2 separate regions of the Homo sapiens genome follow, and region 2 is linked to region 1. The links come from fine-mapping of genetic effects on gene expression. A gene starts in region 1. The other region holds a variant in brackets. All regions are shown on one strand. Distances are from middle to middle. Region 1 holds the start of UBXN7 (UBX domain protein 7). Region 2 overlaps UBXN7 (UBX domain protein 7).

Evidence for each region.
Region 2: its variant is fine-mapped to the expression of UBXN7 in whole blood (TOPMed, PIP 0.93).

What each region holds. Positions count from the first base shown.
Region 1 is chr3:196,424,957-196,437,579 of GRCh38, forward strand. It overlaps UBXN7 (UBX domain protein 7), which reads right to left and starts at 7,471. Exons shown (of 11, transcript NM_015562.2): 1 at 7,371-7,471. The coding sequence starts at 7,443. It overlaps UBXN7-AS1 (UBXN7 antisense RNA 1), which reads left to right and starts at 6,429. Exons shown (of 2, transcript NR_046745.1): 1 at 6,429-6,485; 2 at 7,246-8,078. RefSeq lists enhancers at 6,228-7,002, 6,579-6,628, 7,003-7,776, 7,709-7,788 and silencers at 7,339-7,398, 7,419-7,668.
Region 2 is chr3:196,342,777-196,355,399 of GRCh38, forward strand. It overlaps UBXN7 (UBX domain protein 7), which reads right to left. Exons shown (of 11, transcript NM_015562.2): 11 at 4,886-12,623. Among named protein-coding and RNA genes, the nearest start is that of TM4SF19-DYNLT2B, 11 kb to the left of the region's middle. The variant C/T (reference allele first, on the strand shown) is at 6,444.

The DNA.
Region 1 (12,623 bases):
CTCCCAAAGTGCTGGGATTCCAGGTGTGAACCACCGCACCTAGCCCCATTTTTATAACTTTAACTGCCATGAATATGACAGATTTCTCACTCTTCTTTCTAGACCCAAATATTCATCTGCTTCAACAGCTCCATCTGGAAGTCCTATTAGCAGCACCTTAACTTATCCAAAACTGAGCTAACCATCTTCTCCCCACACCTTTCTGCTATTCCATACCTTCATAAATAGCACTGTTACATACCTAGGTGTCCAAAACAGAATCCTAAACTTCATTTTGACTCTGATTTCTTCCCATACCTTTTGGAGTCCACTTCTCCGCCACTAACTTTTTTCAGGACACCACTATCTTTCTTGGGTTAATATAACAGCCTTCTACTGATCTCTGTGCCTATCTCTTCTCCATTATAGCCAAGTAACTCTTTCTTTAAAAAAAAAAAAAAGGTCAAATCAGATGTAACTCCTTTTTTAATAAATAAAATTTTAATACATTTTGTAGAGATGGGGTCTCACTATGTTGCCTAGGCTGATCTCAAGCTCCAGGCCTCCCACCTCAGCCTCCCAAAGTGCGGGAATTATAGGTGTGAGCCACAGTGCCCAGTCTCACTCCTCTAATTAAAACCCTTGACTCCCCACTATTCTCAGAATAAAGACAAGATTTTTTTTAACATGGCTTATAAGGCCCAACCCAATCTCCCATTTATCTCTTGAGGTCCATTTATTGCACTAGCTGTGCTTTACTCATTTGGAATTATCAATTCCCTAAACCGATTGTCTCCCCTCTCTCATCTCTGTCTGTATACATGTCTGCCCAATTCCCCTCCAAGTCTCTGCATGTTTCTCCTGCAAGAAACATCTTCCAGATTTTAGATAAAAAAGTATTTATTCTGGGAAGGTTTTCTTGACCTCCCTCTTTTGTGCTCCAGTATTAGCTCCTTACCATTCTCTCACTGTATTCTAATACCTATTCGTGTGTCTCTATTCCTGTTAACCTTTAAGCTTTCTGAGGACAGACACCACGCCTTGCTCACAGTTGTATCCTTAAGATGTGAACCATGCCTGGCACGTAGCAGTCTACCAATAAATGAATCTACTAGTAAGATTCCATTCGCAACTCAAAATTACCTCCCTTAAATTTCTGAAACTTCAGCCAGGCATGGTGGCTCAAGCCTGTAATCCCAGCGCTTTGGGAGGCTGAGGTGGGTGGATCACCTGAGGTCAAGAGTTTGAGACCAGCCTCGCCAACAAGATGAAACCCCATCTCCATTAAAAATACAAAAAATTTAGCTGGGTGTCGTGACGCGCATCTGTGGTCCCAGCTGCTCAGGAGGCTGAGGCAGGAGAATCACTTGAACCGGGGAGGCGGAGGTTGCAATGAGCCAAGATCACAGCACTGCACTCCAGCCTGGGTGACAGGATAAGACTTCGTCTCAAAAAAAAAAAAAAAAAGAAATTCTGAAATGTATTCCCTATTGAAACTATTCTTAAAATTCCTGAAGTTTTCTCTTAACATCTATAATACTGTGACCACCTTTCCAGACACAGAGAACTTAATCATAGTTTAATATTAACCCAAGAGAAAGGAAATGTTCTGTACAAAAGCATATGAATGAGGCCAGGCGCGGTGGTTCACACCGGTAATCCCAGCACTTTGGGAGGTCGAAGCAGGAGGATCACCTGAGGTCGGGAGTTCGAGACCAGCCTGACCAAAATGGAGAAACCCCGTCTCTACTAAAAATACAAAATGAGCCGGGCGTGGTGGCGCATGCCTGTAATCCCAGCTACTCAGGAGGCTGAGACAGGAGAATCGCTTGAACCCGGGAGGTGGAGGCTGCAGTGAGCCAAGATCGTACCTTTGCACTCCAGCCTGGGCCACAGAGTGAGACTCTGTCTCAAAAAAAAAAAAAAGAACATGAATGGAAATTGGCCATAAAGTTAAATACCACAAACATGACAGCCCCTAATTTTTATAATAAATATGCACTCATCAACCATCTGAAAGATTAAGGTCTCTTCTACAACTGAGGTTCTATAATTTTCTCAAGTATGTTATTGCCGCTATGCACAAAGCTCTATGAATTTCCGTACCAGTAACCTCTTGTACTCTTCTTAGCCTCCACTTTCTATGCCCTCACATTTGTCCTTAGACTGCTAGCTTATTTTTCACCTGTTCTATAGTGTCTATGTATCCCTCACCTTCACTCCATGAATTATTCTGATTACACATGTGCACCAGTGTATATGTGTAGTGGATGTCAGCCCAAAGTTGGTGCTAATGGAATACTGCCATGGCTCAAAACATTTTTACTTTTATTTACTTTTTCTTTTTTTGAGACAGGGTCTCGCTCTGTGCTCGCTTCAGCAGCACATATACTAAAATTGGAGACAGAGTCTCGCTCTGTCGCCCAGGCTGGAGTGCAGTGGCTGGATCTCGGCTCACTGCAACCTCCGTCTCCTGGGTTCACGAGATTCTCCTGCCTCAGCCTCCTGGGTAGCTGGGACTACAGGCGTGCACCACCATGCTCAGCTAATTTTTGTATTTTTCGGAGAGACAGGGTTTCACCAGGTTGGCCAGACTGGTCTGAAGCTCCTGACCTCCGGTGATCCACCCGCCTTGGCCTCCCAAAGTGCCTGGGATTACAGGCGTGAGCCACCGCACCTGGCTTCAAAACATTTTTAAAAATTGCTCTTTCAGAATAGATCCAGCTGCATATTTTTCCTTCATGTTTTGAGAATTGATATGACTTCTGAGTTTTCAACAGTAATTCAAAGCCATGTATGATAAATATCAGAGGAGATCAAACAGTAGTATTGTAAAATGTGGAATGACTATAAAAGTAACAAGACTGGTTTTCTTATGTAGCTTTAAATGACACAGAAAGCATCAGTGGGGCCGGTTGCAGTGGCTCACGCCCATAATACCAGCACTTTGGGAGGCTGAGGAGGGCAGATCACTTGAGGTCAGTTTGAGACCAGCTTGCCCAACATGGTGAAACTCCATCTCTACTAAAAATACAAAAATCAGACGGGCATGGTGGCTTGAGCCTGTAATCCCAGCTACTGCGGAGGCTGAAGCAGGAGAACTGCTTGAACCCAGGAGGCGGAGACAGCAGTGAGCCGAAATCATGCCACTGCACTCCAGCCTGGGTGACGGAGTGAAATTCTGTCGAAAACAAAAACAAAAACAAAAACAAACAAAAAGCAAGCATCAATGGTAAACCATACTGTATACAGCTTCTCAGTGTGGTTACTTCAAAGGTCATCACTTCTCTTGGCTACCTGCTTATCAGTCTGACCATGCAAAAAAGGTTTGTAGCATAATGTTAAGTGAAAATTTCAGAACCGTGTATTTTAGCTGGGCATGGTGGCACATGCCTGTAGTCTTAACTGCTCTGGAGGCTGAGGCAGGAGAATCACTTGAGCCCAGGCGGTAAGGATGCAGCAAGCTATAATTGTGCCACTGTACTCCAGCCTGGGTGACAGAACAAGACCGTCTTTAAAAAAAAAAAAAGAAAAAGAAATCTCAGAAATTGTATATACTATGATCCACAATGTAAAAATAAGCATATAAACAAGAAGTGGAAGATAATATGTAAAATAAATATTGCTGTTGTGAGAAGGAGAATTAGTTCTTTTCCCTTTTATCAAAATTATTTCGGCCAGGTGCAGTGTCCCACGCCTGTAATCCCAGCACTTTGGGAGGCCAAGGTGGGTGGATTGCTTGAGCCCAGGAGTTCAAGACCAGCCTGCACAACAAAGTGAGACCCCATCTCCACAAAAAATAAAGAAAGTTACCCTAGAGGCTGCAGTGAGCCGTGATCACACCACTGCACTCTAGTCTGGGTGGCAGTGTGAGACCCAGTCCGTCTCAAAAAAAAAAAAAAAAGTTTTTATGATATTGTCTTTTTAATAATCTTTTTTAATCAGCCATTACTGAACCAGGCACAGTGATGTGCACCTGTAGCCCCAGTTACTGGGAGGGCTGAGGCAAGAGGATGGCTGAGCCCAGAAACTGGAGAACAGCTTGGGCAACAAAGAGAGGAGACCTCCATCTCTTAAAAAAAAAAAAAAAAAATCAAAAATCCGTCATTAGGCCAGGCGCGGTGGCTCACACGTGTAATCCCAGCACTTTGGGAGGCCGAGGCAGGCGGATCACGAGGTCAGGAGATCGAGACCATCCCAGATAACACGGTGAAACCCCGTCTCTACTAAAAATACAAAAAATTAGCCAGGCGTGGTGGCAGGCGCCTGTGGTCCCAGCTACTTGGGAGGCTGAGGCACGAGAATGGTGTGAACCTGGGAGGCAGAGCTTGCAGTGAGCCAACATCACGCCACTGCACTCCAGCCTGGGTGACAGAGCGAGACTCCGTCTCAAAAAAAAAAAAAACATCAGTCATTATTTCATACTCACTGAATCAGAGAGAGATCTGTTCTATTCAGTAAGAAATAAGACTTTTCTAAAATCTTTCAATTTTCCGTTCTATTTCTAAATGCCAAAAAAAGATAAGACTCACATTTATTTTTATTTTTTCTTTTTCTTTTTTTTGCTCCTGCCTAAAAAGTAAGGACTCACATTTTTGATGATGCATTTGTTTTTACAAGAATATTGAGCTTCCAAGTAAAACCTTTGTGAAATCAGAGCATAAGCTATTAAGGTCACTAAAATAAATATAAAATACCTTTTAATTATAAACACTACGATTAAAACGTATGTGGAGAGAACCCCAAAAAAATTTTAAGACATGTAAAAAAGGCAAAAAGAAATCAATCATGTGTTTCTAACGGTTAATCACTATCTTGTAAAAAGAATCCCAAAAATTATCAATAGAAATTCACAATATTTGAAGAACACTCAAAGGTATTTTCGCTCTGTAGATCTCCAGATACCACTGTCTACTGATTGAGGGACTCCAACTTGATCCAGCAATCAAGCTACGTAGACGAACAGAAACAGAATTAAAGCAATTAAGTGAGTCAATTCAACTCACCACACTTCGGTTTTTGTGTGTACCTAATAAAAATGTTGCAACAGAAGAAGTAATGTGGCGTTAAACCAATCAGAGTTTGGGAAGAGTAGTAATTAGCATAAGAAACTGAAAATTAATTAAGTGGCTTTTAGGGCCAGGCGCGGTGGCTCACGCCTGTAATCCTAGCACTTTGGGAGGCTGAGGTGAGTGGATCATTTGAGGACAGGAGTTCAAGACCAGCCAGGCCAACATGATGAAACCCCGCCTCTACTAAAAATACAAAAATTAGCCGGGCCTGGTGACAGGCGCTTGTAGTCCCAGCTACTCGGGAGGCTGAGACAGGAGAATCGCTTGAACCCGGGAGGTGGAGGTTGCAGTGAGCCAAGATCGTGCCTGGGAGATCTGCACTCCAACCTGGGCAACACAGCGAGACTGTCTCAAAATAATAATAATAATAATAATAATAAGTGGCTTTTTTTTTCTTTTTGAGAAATGATCTTGCTCTGTTGCCAGGGATGGAGCGCAGTGGTATGATCTACTCACCGCAGCCTTGAACTCCTAGGCTCAAGCAATCCTCCCACCTCAGCCTCCCCAGTAGCTGGGACTACATGTCGGTGCCACTACATCCAGCTCATTTTCTTATTTCTGTAGAGATGGGGCCTCACTATGTTTTGCCCAGGCTGGTCTGCAACTCCTCGCCCCATGTGAATCTCCAGCCTCCGTCTCCCAAACTGCTAGGATTACAGGCGTGAGACACCGCGCCAGGCCCAAGTGGCATCATAAACCATCTCTAGGAAATCTAAAGGATTAATAATGATATTCACTTCTCTATCAGATTCACTGCAAAGATTTTTCTATATAAGCATAATGCAGCAACACTAACTTATATACACAATAATCTTCTCCATAGCAATGATTTGTCAGACATTAGGAAATCCTTTACATATTTAATATAATAATCCAATCCTTTATATCTTCAATAATCCAATCACAAAGTTCAAAAATATTAAGAGAAGTTATCATGCAACTCCTCACCCCAATTTTATTGCAAATTTTACTTTACTTTGACCTGATGTTCCATGCCCACAAGCTAGATAACAATGCGTCAAATATCTCGTTATCATTGCAAAGCAAAAAAATAAAACTTGCTTTAATATAAAACGGTAACTAGTATACAACCTGTAGTAGTTAAAACAATATAAAATTTTACTTAACCAGATATTGCACGTTAAACTCTAGGAACATTAACAGTGGAAACATTCTCCGCATCTAACAAATTACGAGATAAAGTATAGATCCGTTGAGAGGGAACTAACATTCTGACCTCCTTCCAAAACGACAAACTAGAACGGCAAAATTACACTCAGGCACATTGGAGTACTCTTCTCTCAAATCACTCCACAGAGAACTTCATCATTTGCTCCGCCCTCTAATAACTCATGCAAGAAAAGTTCAGCACCATCAGAGAGAAACAAGACAGAGAGAATTCATAGAATGGCTTTAGGGCCTTTCCTCCAGGCGGTAAGAGGATCTGCGTGTGTCCTTCGCAGGGGTCCAAAGGGAGAGAACCTAGGCCTAGGGTTTCGGGGATACCGACACCCAGAAACAGATTTTCTCTCAAAGAAGTTTCTGCCGCCATCCCTATCTTATCAGCAGGAGGCCCCGGCGCCATCGTCTCCGTCTTTATGATTTTATTATGGGGAGGTGGGAAACGCCACCCTGGATTCTTCCAGGCCTCCCCTATTCAGCTTGGGGGTTCCCCCTCATTCTTCCCTCAAAGCCTCAGTCCCTGAGGTCCTCCTCAGCACCCCCCGCTTCTGGCGGCCTGTCCCCCGTGAAGTGTAAAGGCACGGCCGAACCCACCGGCCTTGCCGTGAAGGCGGGAGGGCCCGAACCCGCCAGGGCCACGGCGATGGCTCCGAGGGGCCCAGAAAGGGGAAGGGCAGGCCGGGGACCGGGGCAGAATGACCTGGCCGGGGAAGAAAGGAAAAAAGGAGGTGAGGAGATGCACCGCACCGCAGGGCTGCACAGAGAAGGGAAGATGATGAAGGAGGAGGAGGAGGGCGGTGGCCCGGGTGCGGCCCCCTACTCCTCCCGCCCCCGGGTCCCCGGGCCGGCGGGGGCGGACGGACTCGGCCCATTCCCAGGTCTGGGCTGGCGGGGGGTTGGGGGATCTCCCTCCACGCTACTAGGAGACAGAGAACGAGGGTATCGGGAGCGGGGGGGGGCTGTCTCCCGCCTGAACCCGGAGACCCCGACGCCGTCGTCGCCTCTTCCTCAGGAGGGAGGACGGCAGCTGTGGGTAAAGCCCGAAGGAGGAATGCCTGAAGGTAAGGGGAAGCCCGGGGCAGACCCGCTGCCCGCTCCGGACCCCACTCTCCACCTTCCGGTAACCGCGTCTCTTACCGGTAATGGTGGTGAACTGTTGAATTAACCCCTTCAGCGCCGAGGACGCCGCGGAGCCCCCGTGGGCAGCCATCTTACCGCCGCCGCCGCCGCCGAACAACAACACAGACACACACGGACTGCCCTCCCCCACTTCGCCGTGCGGTGTGCGCAGGCGCATTGACCGCCCCTCGAGCCCCGCCCCTCCCGTCCCCAGCGGTCTGCGCAGGCGCATTTTCCGACCGGGCCCGCGCGCTCCCAGCTCTCGGGTTGGCTGCTCGGTTGCTGCCTGCTCAGTGCATCCTTTTTGCCATTGCTGGTGCCTTCCTCTCCGGGCTCCAAGGCTAGCCTCGCAGGCGCGGTGTCGATTCCTAGATTCCGAAGGAAGCTTCGGTCTCGGCAGATAGTTCTTCGCATTTCAGCTTCGCAAGCTTTATTGACAGAGCCAACTGCCGATGACAGCATTTTTCTGTTTTGCGGTTGTACCGCACTCTATTAGGTTTCCTGCAGGTCCCATCAAAATGCAAACCCTACCTCCTCGCTTTGAAGCGACTCTCCCCGTACTCGCCCCCCAGCCTCTAAACTAATGGCTTAGCTAACCGATTGCGACGAGTGAAATACCAGAACCCTTCATGCCAAAGAAAGCACTTAGCGCGGGGTTGCCACCCAGTAGGTTTTCATAAACGATTGTTTAGTCTGCTTTCCTTAAATAAATTGGCCATCACGTCTCCCGTTAGGGTCTTAATGAGACCCCAAGAGGCGTCATTTGTATAAAAAGAAACTCTGTATATGCAGTAGAGGAAAGAAAACATATAGAAAGGAGACTGGAAAAGTGTGCTCAAAACGCTGGTAACGGTTACCTCCAGAGAAGAGAACGATCGGGACGATGGTCAAAGCGGACCTTACTTCGAGTTTCTTATTTATCTTTTTATTTTTAAACAAACATTATTGGCCGGGCGCGGTGGCTCATGACTGTAATCCCAGCACTTTGGAAGGCCGAGGTGGGAGAATCGCTTGAGGCAAGGAGTTCGAGACCAGACTGGGAAATATATCAAGAATCCATCTCAAAAAAAAAAAAAAAAAAAAGATATTCGTGTGTTCCTTGAATAATTTTAAGTATTTTGCAAAACAGTTACATGAGTGGGGTGCGCTCAAATCCAATAATCCCCCACCTTGCCCATAAAGTTAAAAGAGATTCCAAGTGATTCCGTTTGTTTTAGCCTCCCACCTTCCAACCTCCACCCACATATTTTGCATCTTCATAGGAAAATGGCCCAATAAAAGATGGGATGAGCTGTCTGAAGAATTGACACATCCTAAGAGTAAACATGCTATTGGGGAGAATTAAGAAAGAGCCATGTCAAATCAAGGGGTATAGTTTTTTGTTTTGTTTTGTTTGACAGGGAGTCTCGCTCTGTCGCCCAGGCTGGAGTGCAGTGGTGCAATCTCAGTTTACTGAAAGCTCCGCCTCCCGGGTTCAAGCGATTCTCCTGCCTCAGCCTCCCAAGTAGCTGGGATTACAGGCACACGCCACCACGCCTGGCTAATTTTTGTATTTTTAATAGAGACGAGGTTTCACCATGTTGAGCAGGCTAGTCTCAAACTACTGACCTCAAGTGATCCACCCGCCTCGGCCTCCCAAAGTGTTGGGATTACAGGCGTGAGCCACCACACCCAGTCGGGCTGTAGTTTCAAGAAGATATGATTGATGTAAAAGAAAGCAGACTCCAGTAATCCCAGCACTTTGGGAGGCCGAGGCGGGCGGATCGCCCGAGGTCAGGAGTTCCAGACCAGCCTGGTCAACATGGCGAAACCCCATCTCTACTAAAAATACAAAAATTAGCTGCTGTGGTGGCGCGGGCACCTGTAATCCCAGCTACTTGGGAGGCTGAGGCAGGAGAATCACTTGAACCCGGGAGGCAGAGGTTGCAGTGAGCCGAGATCATGCCACTGTGCTCCAGCCTGGGTGACAGAGCAAGACTCCGTCTCAAAAAAAAAAATGTATTTTAAGTTAAATGACAGATTGGTCCTGGCACTGCCTTCCAGGTTGCTGCAGTTCTCTAGATGGGCTGAGGAAGGGCAGGGATCAGTCATAAATTTCGGCAGCTGATTCCTTCACATTTGATGCAGAGGTGCAAAAACAGGCAAGGGAAGAAAGCCAAATCAAGAAAGTGTTACCTCTGTCTCCCTTCATCCTAAAGGCTGAGTCACTAGCCAGCCATGCAAAATCAAGCTCCACGTAAAATGGTATAACACCATTAACTACAAAAACTAAACACAGTGATTACTGTACCTCCATCAGATGGAGAGGCCAGTAATGAGCTCTGCAGGTTTATCAGGTTTATTTCCAAAATCTTATAATTCAGATTTAATGATATGATTTTGATTAACAGTGCAGGAAAAGGTGATAAAGTCTGTGGCATCCACAACTCCAGAAGGCATTTTTTTAGAAATTAAAAAATAAGATAAAAGAAAATTAGACAGGTGGCCAAAAAGATTCCATGGTCGGGGGGAGGGGGGGAAAGAAGGGAAGAAAATGAGACAGTTTCCATGGATAACCAGGGAACTGGGAAAAATAAATAAAGAAGTAATGAATAATACAACCTTGAAAAGCTTTTTTGGATTATTAAAGAATATGAAGGACTGACCAGTTGCGGTGGCTCACACCTGTAATCCCAGCACTTTGGGAGGCCGAGGCTGGGGATCACCTGAGGTCAGGAGCTCCAAACCCGCCTGACCAACATGGTGAAACACCATCTTTACTAAAAATACAAAATTAGCTGGGCGTGATGGTGCGTGCCTGTAATCCCAGCTACTCGTGTGGCTGAAGCAGGAGAATCGCTTGAGCCCGGGAGGTGAAGTTTGCAGTGAGCCAAGAATGAGCTACTGCACTCCAGCCTGGGCAACAGAGTGAGACTCCGTCTCAAAAAAAAAAAAAAAAAAAAAAAAAAAGAATATGAATATGAAGGATGGGTGTCGTGGCTCATGCCTGTAATCCCAGCACTTTGGGAGGCCAAGACAGGAGGATCACTTGAGCCCAGGAGCTTGAGACCAGCCTAGGCAACATAGGGAGACCCTATCTCTGAAAAAAGAAAAAAAAAGTTTAATTAGCCAGGTGCGGTGGTGCAAGCTTGTAGTCCCACCTACTCTGGAGGCTGAGGCGGGAGGATCACTTGGGCCCAGGTGGTCGAGGCTGCAGTGAGCCATGATGACACCACTGCACTCCAGCCTGGGTAAGATATGTGGAAATCACAAGGAACAGTGGAGGATCTCATACTAGTAACAGTAGAACTGTCACAACCCATACGTCCAAAGAGATGAGAACAGAGAGAAGTTAGAGAAATCCCAAGTGAGATTTTTTTGCAGAGCAAACCACCATGCAAGAAGCAATGACCTTCTGTCAAGGGACATAAATAAGCAGCTTGAGGCAATCTCAGAGAGGAGCTCAGGGACATAGATACCCTGACCTCGATCTCCTCTTCTGTCTCCTGCCAGGAATCCCCAATGGCTGAACCCAAATGGAAGACAGAGGGCACAGCAAGAAGCCCCTTGTAGTTCCCACAGGCAGCCCCGGGGCAGAGAGCAGGATGGAAAAGAGGAAATTGATGGACACAAATGTAAAATGGAATGGTCATGGAAATACATTCCAAAACTTGAGGAGCTTTTTGGTTTGTTTGGGTCTTTTTTGTTTCATCTTGTTTTGTTTTTTGAGACAGGGTCTCTCTCTGTCGCCCAGGCTGGAGTGCAGTGGCAGGATCTTGGCTCACTGCAGCCTCTGCCTCCTGGGTTCAAGCGATTCTCCTGCCTCAGCCTCCCAAGTAGCTGGGATTACAGGAGCAGGCCACCATGCCCAGCTAATTTTTGTATTTTTAGTAGAGACAAGGTTTCACCATGTTGGTCAGGCTGGTCTTGAACTCCTGACATCAAGTGATCCACCTGTCTCAGCCTCCCAAAGTGCTGGGATTACAGGGTGAGCCACAGAGCCTGGCCCGAAACTGATGGAGTTTTAACAGAAGCTAAAGGAGAATATATAAGCTTAACTGGTTATATTAGAGAAGAAGACTGGAAAATAAGTAGCTCAGCATTTCATCAAGAAGTTAATAAAGGAACAACAACTCAGCAGACAAGGAAAAATGTGAAGAAAAAATGCTAAAGAGCAGAAATTGACAAAATAGAATACAAAATACAGAAGAGAGGATTCATAAAACCAAAAGCTGGTTCTCTGAAATAACAATATGTAAAACCTTTGACAGGCCAGGTGTGGTGGCTCACACCTGTAGGCCCAGCACTTTGGGAGGCCGAGGTGGGTGGATCACCTGAGGTCAGGAGTTCCAGACCAGCCTGGCCAACATGGTGAAACCCCGTCTCTACTAAAAATACAAAAATTAGCTGGACGTGGTGGCGGGCGCCTGTAATCCCAGCTACTTGGGAGGCTGAGACAGTAGAATCACTTGAACCCAGGAGACAGAGGTTGCAGTGAGCCGAGATTGTGCCATTGCACTCCCGCCTGGGTGACAGAGTGAGACTCCATCTCAAAAAATAAAAAAATAAATAATAATAAAACCTTTGACAGATTAAGAACAAAGAGAAAGACACAAACAATATTATGAAAAAAAGACATAGCAGACATAGCCGTGGCTTGAAAAATAAGAGAATATTATGAATAATTTTATGCTGATGAATTAGGAAATAGATAAATGACAGTTTCCTAGAAGAAATAATTAACAAAATGGAACTCAACTATGCATAGACTTATGACCATTAACAAAATGAAATCTGCCACACAAATGACCACACCCCAGTGATTTTACAGGAGATTGCTACCAAAAAAGTTAAGAAACAGATTATCCCAAACTTATACAAATGCTTCCAGATAAAGAACAATGGGAACAAACAGCTCATTCTATAAGGGTAGCATAACCTTGAAATCAAATCAAACAAAATAATAAATGAGAATTCATCCTCACTCATGGCTACTGAAACAGATATCTTAAATTAAATCAGAATTTAGAAATCCACATATTCACACATACATGTACATATTTTTTTTATTGGGTTTACTTCAGGAATGCAAGCATAATTTTACAGTAAAAAGCTCTTACAAATGGCACAGTTGCTCGCCCCTGTAATCCCAGCTACCTAGGAGGCTGAGGTAGGAGGACCACTGGAGCCCAATTGTCTAGGAGTTTGAAGCTGAATGAGCTATAATTGCACCCTGCACACTCCAGCCTGGACACCAGAAACTCCAGAAAAAAAAAAAAAAAACACCTCTGT
Region 2 (12,623 bases), 82 kb before region 1:
TGCAAGCTCCACCTCCCGGGTTCACGCCATTCTCCTGCCTCAGCCTCCCGAGTAGCTGGGACTACAGCGCCCGCCACCACAACCGGCTAATTTTTGTATTTTTAGTAAAGACGGGGTTTCACCGTGTTGGCCAGGATGTTCTCGATCTCCTGACCTCGTGATCCGCCCGCCTCGGCCTCCCAAAGTGCTGGGATTACAGGCGTGAGCCGCCGCGCCCGGCTGAACAAGACACTTCTTTAAGAAATCATGTACTTGAGATAAACGGGTCTCGTAAGGCTAGCGTTGGGACTATCTCTTCATTTCCATGTGGCGAGCCTCCTAGGGCAACAGAGGCACGGTCGCTGCCATGAAAGCACTGAAGCTTCACCTCTTTGAGACGTGTTAATAACCGCGGAGTGTGGCTCTACTGGAGATGGAGCTACTTGCTGTTACTTTGTCGGTGATGCTCCTAGGGAGGAGCAAATGGGAGTCTGAGGACATAAATGACGAACAGGGCCTGGGCTGAGAAAACCAGTCATGCCACAAAAGGCTTCCTGAGGCTGAAAGATTTGGGAGACGGCCAGGTGCCAGTGACCCACACCTGTAATCCCAGCACTTCGGGAGGCAGAGGCCGGTGGATCACTTGAGGCTGTAACCGCCCAAGGGGTTCACTTGCCCGCTGTCTAGACAGAGCCGATTCGTCATGACAGGGGAATTGCCATAGAGAAAGAGTAATTCACGCACAGCCGGCTGTGCGGGAGACCGCAGTTTTATTATTACTCAAATCAGTCTCTCCCAGCATTCGGGGAGCAGAGTTTTTAAGGACAGCTTGGTGGGTGTGGAGAGCCAGTGAGCCGGGAGTGCTGATTGATCAGGGATGGAATCACAGGGAGTCAGCTGTCTTCTTGCGCTGAGTCAGTTCCTGGGTCGGGGCCACAAGATCAGATGAGCCAGTTTATCCACCTGGGTGGTGCCAGCTGATCCATCAAGTGCAGGGTCTGCAAAGTATCTCAAGCGCTGATCTTAGGAGCAGTGTAGGGAGGGTCAGAATCTTGTAGCCTCCAGCTGCATGGCTCCTAAACCATCATTTCTAATCTTGTGACTAATGTTAGTCTAGTCCCCCGGCAAGAAGGAGGTCTGCTTTGGGAAAGGGCTGTTACCGTCTTTGTTTTAAACTATAAATTAAGTTTCCCCCCAAGTTAGTTCAGCCTACGCCCAGGAATGAACAAGGGCAGCTTGGAGGTTAGACGCAAGATGGAGTCGGTTAGGTTGGATCTCTTTCACTGTCTCAGTCATCATTTTGCAAAGGCGGTTTCAAGGCCAGGAATTTGAGACCAGCATGACCAACATGGTGAAACCGTCTTTACTAAAGATACAAAAATTAGCTGGGCGTGGTGTGCACAACCGTAGTCCCAGCTACTGGGGAGGCTGAGGTGGGAGGACTGCTTGAGTACGAGAGGCGGAGGTTGCGGTGAGCCGAGATCGCGCCACTGCACTCCAGTCTCGGCAACAGAGTGAGACTCTGTTTAAAACAAAAAACAAAAACAAACAAAAAAAGTCCTGGCGCGGTGGCTCACGCCTGTAATCCCAGCACTTTGGAGGCGGAGGCAGGTGGATCACGAGGTCAGGAGATCGAGACCATCCTGGCTAACACGGTGAAACCCCATCTCTACTAAAAATACAAAAAATTAGCCGGGCGTGGTGGCACGTGCCTGTAGTCCCAGCTACTCGGGAGGCTCAGGCCGGAGAATGGCGTGATGAACCCGGGAGGCGGAGGTTGCAGTGAGCCGAGATCACACCACTGCACTCCAGCCTGGGAGAAAGAGTGAGACTCCGTCTCAAATAAAAAAAACAAAAAATAAAGACTTAGGAGAACAGGCTAGACAGATGTTCCATTCTGGGGTATATTTGGGGATCTGGAGGTGGTATTTGAGCAAGAAATAGAGGAAGTTGATGAAATAGAATTCACTGGCAGAAGAGAAGATGATACAGCCAGACAACCAGGCCAGCTGTTTTCTAGTGTTCCCCAGATGAGAGCGACAGGACTAATCAGCCTCCTGTGGGTGGGCTCTAAACTCAACTGAAAGCTGACAAGAGAGCACATTCCCTTAATTGGAGGGAGAAAAAAAGGGAAGATATTGAAAGAGCTGCCTTTTATACCAGACCACTGAAGAGGAAGTTAGGGTTTTCTCATTAGTATATAAAAATCGTAAACTTCCACCCACCCAAAGTAGATTTCTGCCTCCAACATTGCACTGAAACTGTTCTTGGTCTCCAGTGATTTCGTGTCTCTGATGAACGCTACACTGTCCTCTTTACTTGACTCTAGACATAGTTAGCCACAGGATCCTTCTTGAACATTCTTACTCTTGGCTCCCTTGACACCCCACTCTGGTGTTTTTTTGTTTCTTTTTTTTGAGACAGAGTTTTGCTCTTGTCCCTCAGGCTGGAGTCTGGAGTCCAGTGTCACCATCTTGGCTCACTGCAACCTCCACCTCCCGGGTTCAAGCAATTCTCCTGCCTCAGCCTCCCGAGTACCTGGAATTACAAGCAACCGTGCCACCACACCCGGCTAATTTTTGTGTTTTTAGTAGAGGCGGGGTTTCACCATATTGGCCGGGCTGGTCTAGAACTCCTGAGCTCAAGTGATCTGCCCACCTTGGCCTCCCAAGGTGCTGGGATTACAGGCGTGAGCCACTGCGCCCGGCTGAGATTTCTCCTTTAAATAGAACGTTGTGGAGTTTACTTTTAGGCTGAGACCTAAAGGATAAAAGAAAGTGATCCGTGCTAAGACGAGGAGAACTCAAGCAGAAGACATGCCTCGGCTGTGGAGCAGGAAGGTGTTTGATGTTGGGGTTTGAGAGAAGGCCAGTCAGCTGGCAGGCAGGGGGCAAAGGGGGTGGCATGAAGCAAGGAGCTTGGGCATTCTGAGTGGAAGGAGAAGCCAGTATGCGGAGAATGGGTCGGAAGAGAGTAAGAGCAGAGACTACTGCAGTGGTCACGATAAAAAGCAGGTCACTTGGACCAGAGTAATGGCAATAGACTGAAAAGTAGGGTTACCTTTTATGCATTTTGGAGGCAGAAGTTAAAGGACTTGCTGTTGGATTAGAGATGGGGGAATAAGCAAAAGAAAATGACTTAAGTTTCTGGCAGGTTCATAGGTAGTGGTGTCACTGCAGGTCTGGGTGGGGAGGCGTCATCTTAGATGTAAGTGTGATACTTCCAACTATAGGCGCAGTGTAAAAAGTCGGACATGTGAGTCTGAAGCTTGGAGGAGAGACGGGCTGGAGTTGGAGATGTGAGAAATCATTGGCATTATACATGGCGGTTGGTACTATCAGAATGAGATCACAGAGGGAGAGTTAGAGGGCCAGGTCCTGGGGATCACCACCATAAAGACCCAATCAAGGAGGTGCAGGCAGTGAGAAGAAACACCAGGCAGGGCGCAGTGGCTCACATCTGTGATCCCAGCACTGTGGGAGGCCGAGGCAGGTGAATCACTTGAGGTCAGGAATTCGAGACCAGCCTGGCCAACATGGTGAAACCCCGTCTCTACTAAAAACACAAAAATTAGCCGGGCGTGGTGGCGGGCACCTGTAGTCCCAGCTACTCGGGAGGCTGAGGCAGGAGAATTGCTTGAACCTGGGAGGCGGAGCTTCCAGTGAGCTGTGATCAAATCACTGCACTCCAGCCTGGGCAACAGAGCGAGACTCTGTCTCAAAATTAAAAAAATAAAGAATTCTCTACTGGCTCCTTTTCTATTTTTTTTTTTTCATTCTATTAGAATCAGATCTGTTTTTCCATGTATGTTTATCGTCTGTTTCCAACTAGAAAGTAAGTTCCTTGAGGGCAGAGGCTGTATCTGTTTTGCTCCCCATCACATACATCCCTATTATTTGGCACATGAGGCTGGAGCATGGGGATGAGAAATGGTTCCACAAGAAAAGGGGGGGCACAAACCCATCACTGTAGAACTGTGAGCTAAGCAGCAGTCCCTTTTTTTTTTTTTTTTTTTTTTTTTTTGAGATGGAGTCACTCTGTCACCCAGGCTGGATGCTATCTCGGCTCACTGCACCCTCCACTTCCCAGGTTCAAGCAAGTCTCCTGCCTCAGCCTCCCGAGTAGATGGGATTATAGGCACTGCCACCACGCCCGGCTTTTTTCTTTTTTTTTTTTTTGAGACAGAGTTTCACTCTTGTCGCCCAGGCTGCAGTGCAGTGGCACGATCTCGGCTCACTGCAACCTCTGCCTCCTGGGTTCAAGCGATTCTCCTGTCTCAGCCTCCCAAGTAGCTGGGATTACAGGCGGCCGCCACCACACCCAGCTAATGTTTGTATTTTTAGTAGAGACGGGGTTTCACCATGTTGGCCAGGCTGGTCTCGAACTCCTGACCTCAGGTGATCCGCCCATCTCAGCCTCCCAAAGGGCTGGGATTACATGCATGAGCCACTGCATCCAGCAGCAATAACAATTTCTGTCATACCATATAATCGTATCTCCTTTTTGCCCATTAATTTAGTAATTATCTTTCCTTCAATTAAGCTAAGTCCTTAATTAACCATTAGTAATTACTGCTGGTCTGAAAGAACAGACACTGAATATTCGCCCAAGTATGTCAAACACAGAATCATACTTACCTAACAAGCCTAGCTTACCCAATGTTTCTGTAACAACTGGACTAATATTTACAGAGTGTTTACCATGAATGTTTGACATACCACAAAGAGCAGAAAAAAGGCTAGCAAACGTTACACATAACAACGGGACTACAAAGTAACCTTTGTCAATCAATAGTAACTGACCTAAATGAGAACGTGAGGGGGCAAGCTTTTGGAATCTCAATTGTATTACTGAAAGTAATATCCAGAGTCTTATCTTGTAAAAACAACAACACAAAAAAAACTAATACTGAAAAGTTTTTGTTTTTATTTCCAAGATCAAATATTACAACAGGACATTTACATGTATTTATAAAAAAATGCAGCAGTTGAATGTATAGATCAGAGGTTTCCTTGAGTTTGGTCCCTCTCTCAGCACAGTGAGCTGATGTCTTCAAAAGACTTATCGTCCCACTCCCTTCCCTCCCCCACCCCATTGTCCCCCCACCCTCCCCGTTTCAAGTTGCAGTATTAATATAAAGCAACTGGGTACAACACAGCAAGAGTATTCACAATTTGGTACAGACCAAACCAGAGGATCCCCAACTGACAGCAAGATCCTCCTTCTGGAAATTATTACCTATAGACTAGGTAGATCTATAGGTAGATCACACCCAGTTATCTAAGATTTCCCTGGTTTTAGAGCAAGTGGAAGTTCCATTGAGTCTTAGCCAGTAGTTACAACTCTGCGTTACCTAATGGCATGTTTTTCTCCTCTTACAAGTTTAATTTTCTACCGCCTCCATGTGTCTTCAAATTTAAGGCTTTCCCAAGCACCTTTATTATGACTTACTAGATATACAGGAGGGTCTCTAATGTGTCTTGAACAAAAAAATTTAGTGGATGGTCCAGCTGCCCCTTGCTCAACAATCCCAAAGACTTCTTCCCACCACTGAGAAGAGCTGCAGAAATCAACGGTATCTCCTAGCACCATTGGAGAAAAGGCCCAGAAAACAGAATTCGATGTGCATTTTAGGGAGCACTTGCCAGAAACATTACAACAGGAGCACTGTCTCTGTTATCTTCTTGGATTCAATCACAAATTTAGAGTACAGATGAAATTTAGAGCCTGTCCTGCATTAAGAATGCAAATCTCAGTAAGACCACCCCCACACACACTTTGTCCAGAATAAGTTGAGCCACAAACATCCCAGGGAATCTCTAAATACTGTTAGGAACTGCTTTAGAAAACACTTTAAAGCAAATACCCCAAGTTGACTTCACTCAAGCCCCCAACCCACCCTCATCATCCCTATCCCCCTAGAAATTTCATTCCTTGATTAACTTCTCTGAGTAAGATGTAAAGTGAGGTTTGGAAAATGACATGAAACATGAAACATGTTTAAAAACACAATCAATGAAGACATGCCAGAACTGGACATCCCAGGTGACTTCAAATGCATTGTTCAAGCCGAACTCATACAAAGCATGCACAGAGCCTGCACAGACACTGCTGAGAGTTTCCAGGGAACAATCAATACCTACTCGAAAAAGGACTTTCCTGAAGGGCAAACAAAACAAAACAAAACAAAACAAAACAAACAAAACAAAAAGTAACACTGGATGTTTAGAATTTGTTAACAACAACAACAACAAAAAACCATTCTGGAAAAAAAGATTATCAGAGGAGTGAAGAAAACCGTGTCTAACAGATTCATGCCAAAGCTTGGATGGAAGCCCCTCAAAGTCTAAGTATCGTGTTAGCATCAACTGGTACTCATTTCTCTATATCTAAGACTAGAAGATTCTCTCACAGCTTTACTGTTTCCTGGCAAGTGTTTTCAACAGCCTTTCCAGCTGAAGGGA[C/T]GAACCCAGGAAAGTAACAAGGCCCAAGACCCCACATGGGTCAGATAAGCAGCCCCTACTAGAAGCTTGCTACTCGTTAACTGAAAAGTGGAGGCCACGCACTACTTTCACTCTCTCTAGCAGGTGAAAGGGGATTTTCTGATGGCAACAGTCACTCCGTGTAAGGTTTAACTTACAGGGCAATAAGTTATCAAAAAGTTATTGTTAAAAGCATATGATTAGTGTCATAAACATATTTATATTTGGAATTACACCATTTGATATCTCCATTAAGAATGCAAAGCTTTGAGAAAAGCATACTGTAAAATCATGTTGCTGCAAACAGCAAGGCATCCAGCTGAGTGTAAGCAGTCTAATGTCATCAAACTGAAATGGACCCTCGTGACGGGCACTATGGAACCAGCTACCTAGATAGAGAGAAAAAAGGAGAATGGCAGGGAACGGTTCCAGATCAAGAATCTCTCCCTTATCAGTTAAGAGTTCCATACTGAGTCTATGAAAAAAGCAAATTAAAAAGATTTTAAGAAAGGGGGAATTCAATTCCAGGTCAGAATTTATCTAATGATTTGATATGTTTCCCATTTATCATGTCTAAAAAATGAATGACTCATGCTAACCCAGTTAGATTAATAACTTCTTTTGATGAGAAAAAATATTACTTAGGTTTAGTCCAGCTTAGCTTGACTATTCTTCCCATTTGAAAACCCAAATGACCTTTAGAAGGGATATAAAATACCCAGAGTATTGTGATCTCTAGAGAGGAAATACAATTAAACAATAAAAACTTGCTGTTTGTTGCCAAAGAATTAAGTACAATAATGCGACTTCTCATATTTATAGATTAATCTGTGATTGCTCTTGGGAAAAATACTATCATTGGTATTTGCCATCTCTAATCCTAGAAATAAATCTGGTTATCTTTTGAAAATACTTTCTCATTACAGGAATGCTAAATTATGTTTATTAAAGTAGTTCAAATTGGATTGCCCAACTTTATTTTGAAATCAATAGCAAAGAAAGGCCTGTGCCAAAAATCATCATGTTTATGAGAATATCTGCAATTTTAAGCAACACAACAGCAACTGGTAGGCCACAAAGAGGGTGGGGTATCACAGAGCTAGCCATTCTCTATATGAAACCAGAGAATTCTCCTTAACTAGGGAGAAAATGAGCTATAAAAGTAAGTTTGCCTCAAAAATGTCCTTCAATTTTATAAAAAATGAAGATTGTTACATATTAAGACTTTGAAATGGAATTTCTTAAACATAGCCAATTACACTAAAAATCATAACTATTTTCAGAGAATGAATGTTAAAAATAAATGGTGGAGAAGTAAAATGGAAAGCAGGATTAAAAGATTTCTAATTAAGGGTCTGTCACTTCACAGGACAACTAGCAAGGCCATTATAATCTCTATTTTTAAAAAGACATCAAGAAATTCTTGATTCTATACTGTCTCTCTAGCAGGACTGACACACAGGTGAGTCAAAAACCATAACCATCACTGAAATACCAAATCTCTATGTAACAGGAGAAACCGATATATTGGTATGGTATTCTCTGTTGGGTTATCTGCAGTTCTAAAGAACATTCTTGCCACTATTCTAAAATGTGTACAGTGCAACACCATGTTTCACGGCAAGACAATAACTGAAAAGCTAAGCCAGGCAATCCAGTGAAGTTGAATGTCCATAGTACACAGCTGTCTTTAGCCTATTCATCAAGGCTGGTATTACCGGAAAACTGCCATGTTCACCAGAAGAGCTGTCTCTTCCTATGCTCATTACATTTTAGTTTTACAAAGACTACTAATTCATCAGCCTGCACCCCATGATTTACTACTGCGTAGTTACATGATGGTCAAAAAAGGCAGAGAGACGGTAAGAATGACATAATAAAGATACATTCTGTGGAATAAAAAACATTTTTAAGTCAGCCTAATTGTATCTTTAAAAAGCTGTTTCTGCCAAAACCAGGTGTGAATCTTATACAAATCAATTTCCCAACAGGCCAGTAAAGTACTTTAAGTACACAAGTAAAAATAAAATTTAGTGCCAGCGTTAGTGTCATATTTGGTTCTCATTTACATTTTAGTCATACTCAACACTGATTAGGCACACAGCATTAAGTTTTAAAAAATAATGAATTGTTTACAAGATTATTATTACTAGACCTATAACTACTATACTCTCCTCTTTGGAGATTTCAGTCATCGCAGTAAGATTAAGAGCAAGTTGTTGGTCAAATGATACCTGAACACAGAATAAAAAAAAGAGAGAAAAAAAAAGTAAAGAAACTGATTAACCAGCACACTTTTAATTAGCCTAGGGATAATACGCAATCACGGGGAGAGACTGGAAGCATGAAATTTTGGAAAAGGACTTCAGAGATAATCTAATTTGTTGTTCTAGAAAAGGCTGAGAACTATTAATCTAGTCCAATTATCTCATTTTTCAGACGAGAAACCAGAGATTAAGAAGAAAGAGAAGTGTGAAGGTAACAACTAGCAGAGCTGTTACCCAAAGGGCTCTCACACCTCCAGTGCCCTTTCTGCATATAACATATACTATACTATGCATTGGATTTGTACCTGGGTAGAGAAATTAAATCTTTCCTTCATTTTTCGGTTGCTAGTGGCTCCCTCTGGTATTTTCCCTAAGTGTGCAAGTAAGATTCCTGCGAGCTAGGAATCTTTACTCCGGGGGATCAATAGTGAGATCCCCGCAAGCTAGGAATCTTTACTCCAGGGATCAATAATCCTTTCCTACTTGGGTACTGGTTATGCCTTAGTGGCAGAACTTCATGCCCCAAATCTAGAAGTTACAAAAGGTGGAGCTAAAGAAAAAGGTGAGTCAAAAGAAAACGTGAGCTACAGTGCTTGCCACTTCAGTCTTGTTTAAGACTTTGCTAACTAAAACATATTCTTCCCTTTTTCTAAGTTTGAACTAATAGGTAAACATTTACATGCTCTCCAATTATTTCATGTGTAGTGTGTCTCTCTAACTGGATAAAACAGGCAGGAATCATATCTTATTTATTATTTTTTGAGACAGAGTCTCGCTCCATTGCCCAGGATGGAGTGCAGTGGTGTGATCTCGGCTCACTGCAACCTCCGCCTCCCAGGTTCAAGAGATTCTTGTGCCTCAGCCTCCCCATTAGCTGGGATTACAGACAGCCACCATGCCTGGCTAATTTTTGTATTTTTCAGTAGAGATGGGGTTTCACCATGTTGGCCAGGCTGATCTCGAACTCCCAACCTCAGGTGATCCACCCACCTCGGCCTCCCAAAATATTGGGATTACAGGCATGAGCCACCACACCTGGCCAGGAATTAGATCTCAGATTTCAAAATACTTCCAACTTCTATAAAGAACTCAATAGCTAATTGTTGACTTGTAAGTCAAGGAAGTAGAATTATATACAAGATTTAAAAACATACACACAGAGGGTTCAATAATCTGGTATGGATGGGACACAGAAAACAGAATTGTAGATCGGGCGCAGTGGCTCATGCCTGTAATCCCAGCACTTTAGGAGGCCGAGGTGGGCGGAACACGAGATCAAGAGATCGAGACCATCCTGGCCAACATGGTGAAACCCTGTCTCTACTAAAAATGCAAAAATTAGCCGGGCGTGGTGGCGCTCACCTATTAAAAAAGGTAATTGTATCTTTTCTGAAAAATGTTTAAAAAAAGAAAAAATTGTTTTTTTACCCTTTTCATTTATTCTTGGCAAATAATGCCACGTGGCAATTTTACTTTCACATCTTCACCAGTGCATCATTTTAAAAAAGCAATAATCAGCCTCTCAAAATAATGGCATAAATAAAAATGTATAGGCATAGTGCAAATCCCACAACTTTAACCCAACTACTTCCTCTATATTTATGGGAACAAAACTAAGTGACACTTTACAAAGCCAAACAATGAGAAGAGAATCATCTGGGTAGCTTGATTCTCTTGCTGAAGGAGACCACAGCATGGACTCTGGATTCCAATTCTGATTTGCCACTCACTAGCTATGAGTCCTGAATAAGTTCTCTATACCTGTTTTCTTAACATGGGAAGAAAGTATACATTTTGTACGATTCTTCGGGAGATTGAAGAGGCAAATGTACACAAAAGTATCTGGTGCATGCCAATTAGTATTAAGTTTCCTGTTCTTTTCTCATTTGGCACTGTTGTTTTCTCTTCTCCAGTTCCTTCCGATACCAATTTCAAAAAAGTATTCCTCTCACTTTTTTCCCACTAGTTTTCTTCTTCTTCTTCTTTTTTTTTTTTAAATTTGAGATGGAGTGTCGCTTTGTCGCCCAGGCTGGAGTGTAATGGTGCGATCTTGGCTCACTGCAACCTCTGCCTCCCAGGTTCAAGCCATTCCCCTGCCTCAGCCTCTGAGTAGCTGGGATTACAGGTGCACGCCACCACACCCAGGTAATTTTTGTATTTTTAGTAGAGACGGGGTTTCACCATGTTGCTCAGGCTGGCCTCGATCTCCTGACCTTAGGTGATCTGCCCACCTCCGCCTCCCAAAGTGTTGGGATTACAGGCATGAGCCACCGCGCCCGGCCTTCCTGGTAGTTTCCATTCCATCTCCCTGTATTTTTCTCTTATCACTCTCGAAGTCTATCTTTCTTGTTCTTTTCCTCCCTAGCTTTTTTTTTTTAAACACTCCTTTCAAGCTGTGTCCAACACCCACAAGGAATGACTATTTTTAACTAATCTTACTGACCTCATTTAATCTATTCAATAAAACCTCTGCCCTAAGGAGCAAAGAAACTTGCAGAGGAAGTAAGGCAAACTGGAAGAAGCATACTGTCAGCGGATTAAATTCTTGAGCAAGGCAATACTCCTTATGGATTCTTCCCATGTACAATCCGTAACTCTTCCCATGGGCCTTTATATCAACCCTAAGATAATTACACTCCTGCCTCAAAATAAAATAAAATAAAACCCACCACATCTTGTATTGTAGACATCCCAGCTGCATGTTAAGCTGAGTGAAAGTACCATGCTGTCTTTTAAATCACTTTATATCTACTTAATCATCCCACAGTAACCCGAGTTGAAGAAGTTACTTTGGTTTCTCATAAATGAATATGCACGTGCTGAACATATCGGAAAGAACCACACCCTCTCACTGATGAACACGTTGGCAGTTCTCCCAACTGTTTTATCAAGAGAAGCTAGAAGGTAAAGAAAAGGAAACAGAGCCCTATAGGAAAAATGATTGACTTCACACGTTTGAGCGATTTGGGCTTCAGCTATGACTTTGCTGGAGTACAGATGGGTGCCATCAGAGCACAAAGCTGAGCAAACCTCTCTTCTTACCCTGTGCCCTCCCTGAATTTTTGGATTTCTGAGCTTGTCTACTACCAACAAATGTTTTACCCTCCAGTGCACCTTTGACAGTATACAGCTCTATTTTTCAAACGGCAAGTATGTTATCCAAGTTCAGAGATGCAACTGAGGAATTAACATGAAAACCATCTTTCACTCAATAAATCAGAAGCTGCTAGTTAAGTAAGCCTCAAGAACCTAAGAAAAAACACCAAAGTGTAAGTATTACTCAGTCACCAATCTAAAGACAGAACTTTGACTCAAGGTAGAAATGAAACCGTAATTATATAAATATATTTATAAATATTTATACAATTATATACTTATACATAAGCACTTACACAGACTTAGAAAAAAATTTAAGAACATTAATTCAAAAGGACTCACTGAAGAATAAACAGATTTTTCCATGATTTCCTTGAGGAGATATAAAACTCATTCTTTAGGGAGAGTTCCTCAAAATTCAACCATTAGAAACCATATCCTATAACTGTGTACTAGCAACACATGGCATCTTTTTTTCTTCTTTTCCCAAATCCCCTAATTGCCAAGAGAGCAATCTTAAAGTAGATGAAAACCTAAAGGTCTCTACGCAACATCTGAGGAACATACGCTCCTCAGATAAAAGAATCAATCTAAATCCTCAACTGACAAAAAGGTCCATTTAATATTTTTCATTTTACAAGTTAAAAGTTCTAGTTTTGCCACCAGAATCACGACTACCCCCCCTTCAGAGGACTCCATTTAAGCTCAAAATACGAAATGAGCATAGGGTGAAGTTGATGTGTAAATGGTATTCTACAGATTCAAGATGGCCTCTTCTAAAAACACTGAAGAAAGCTTT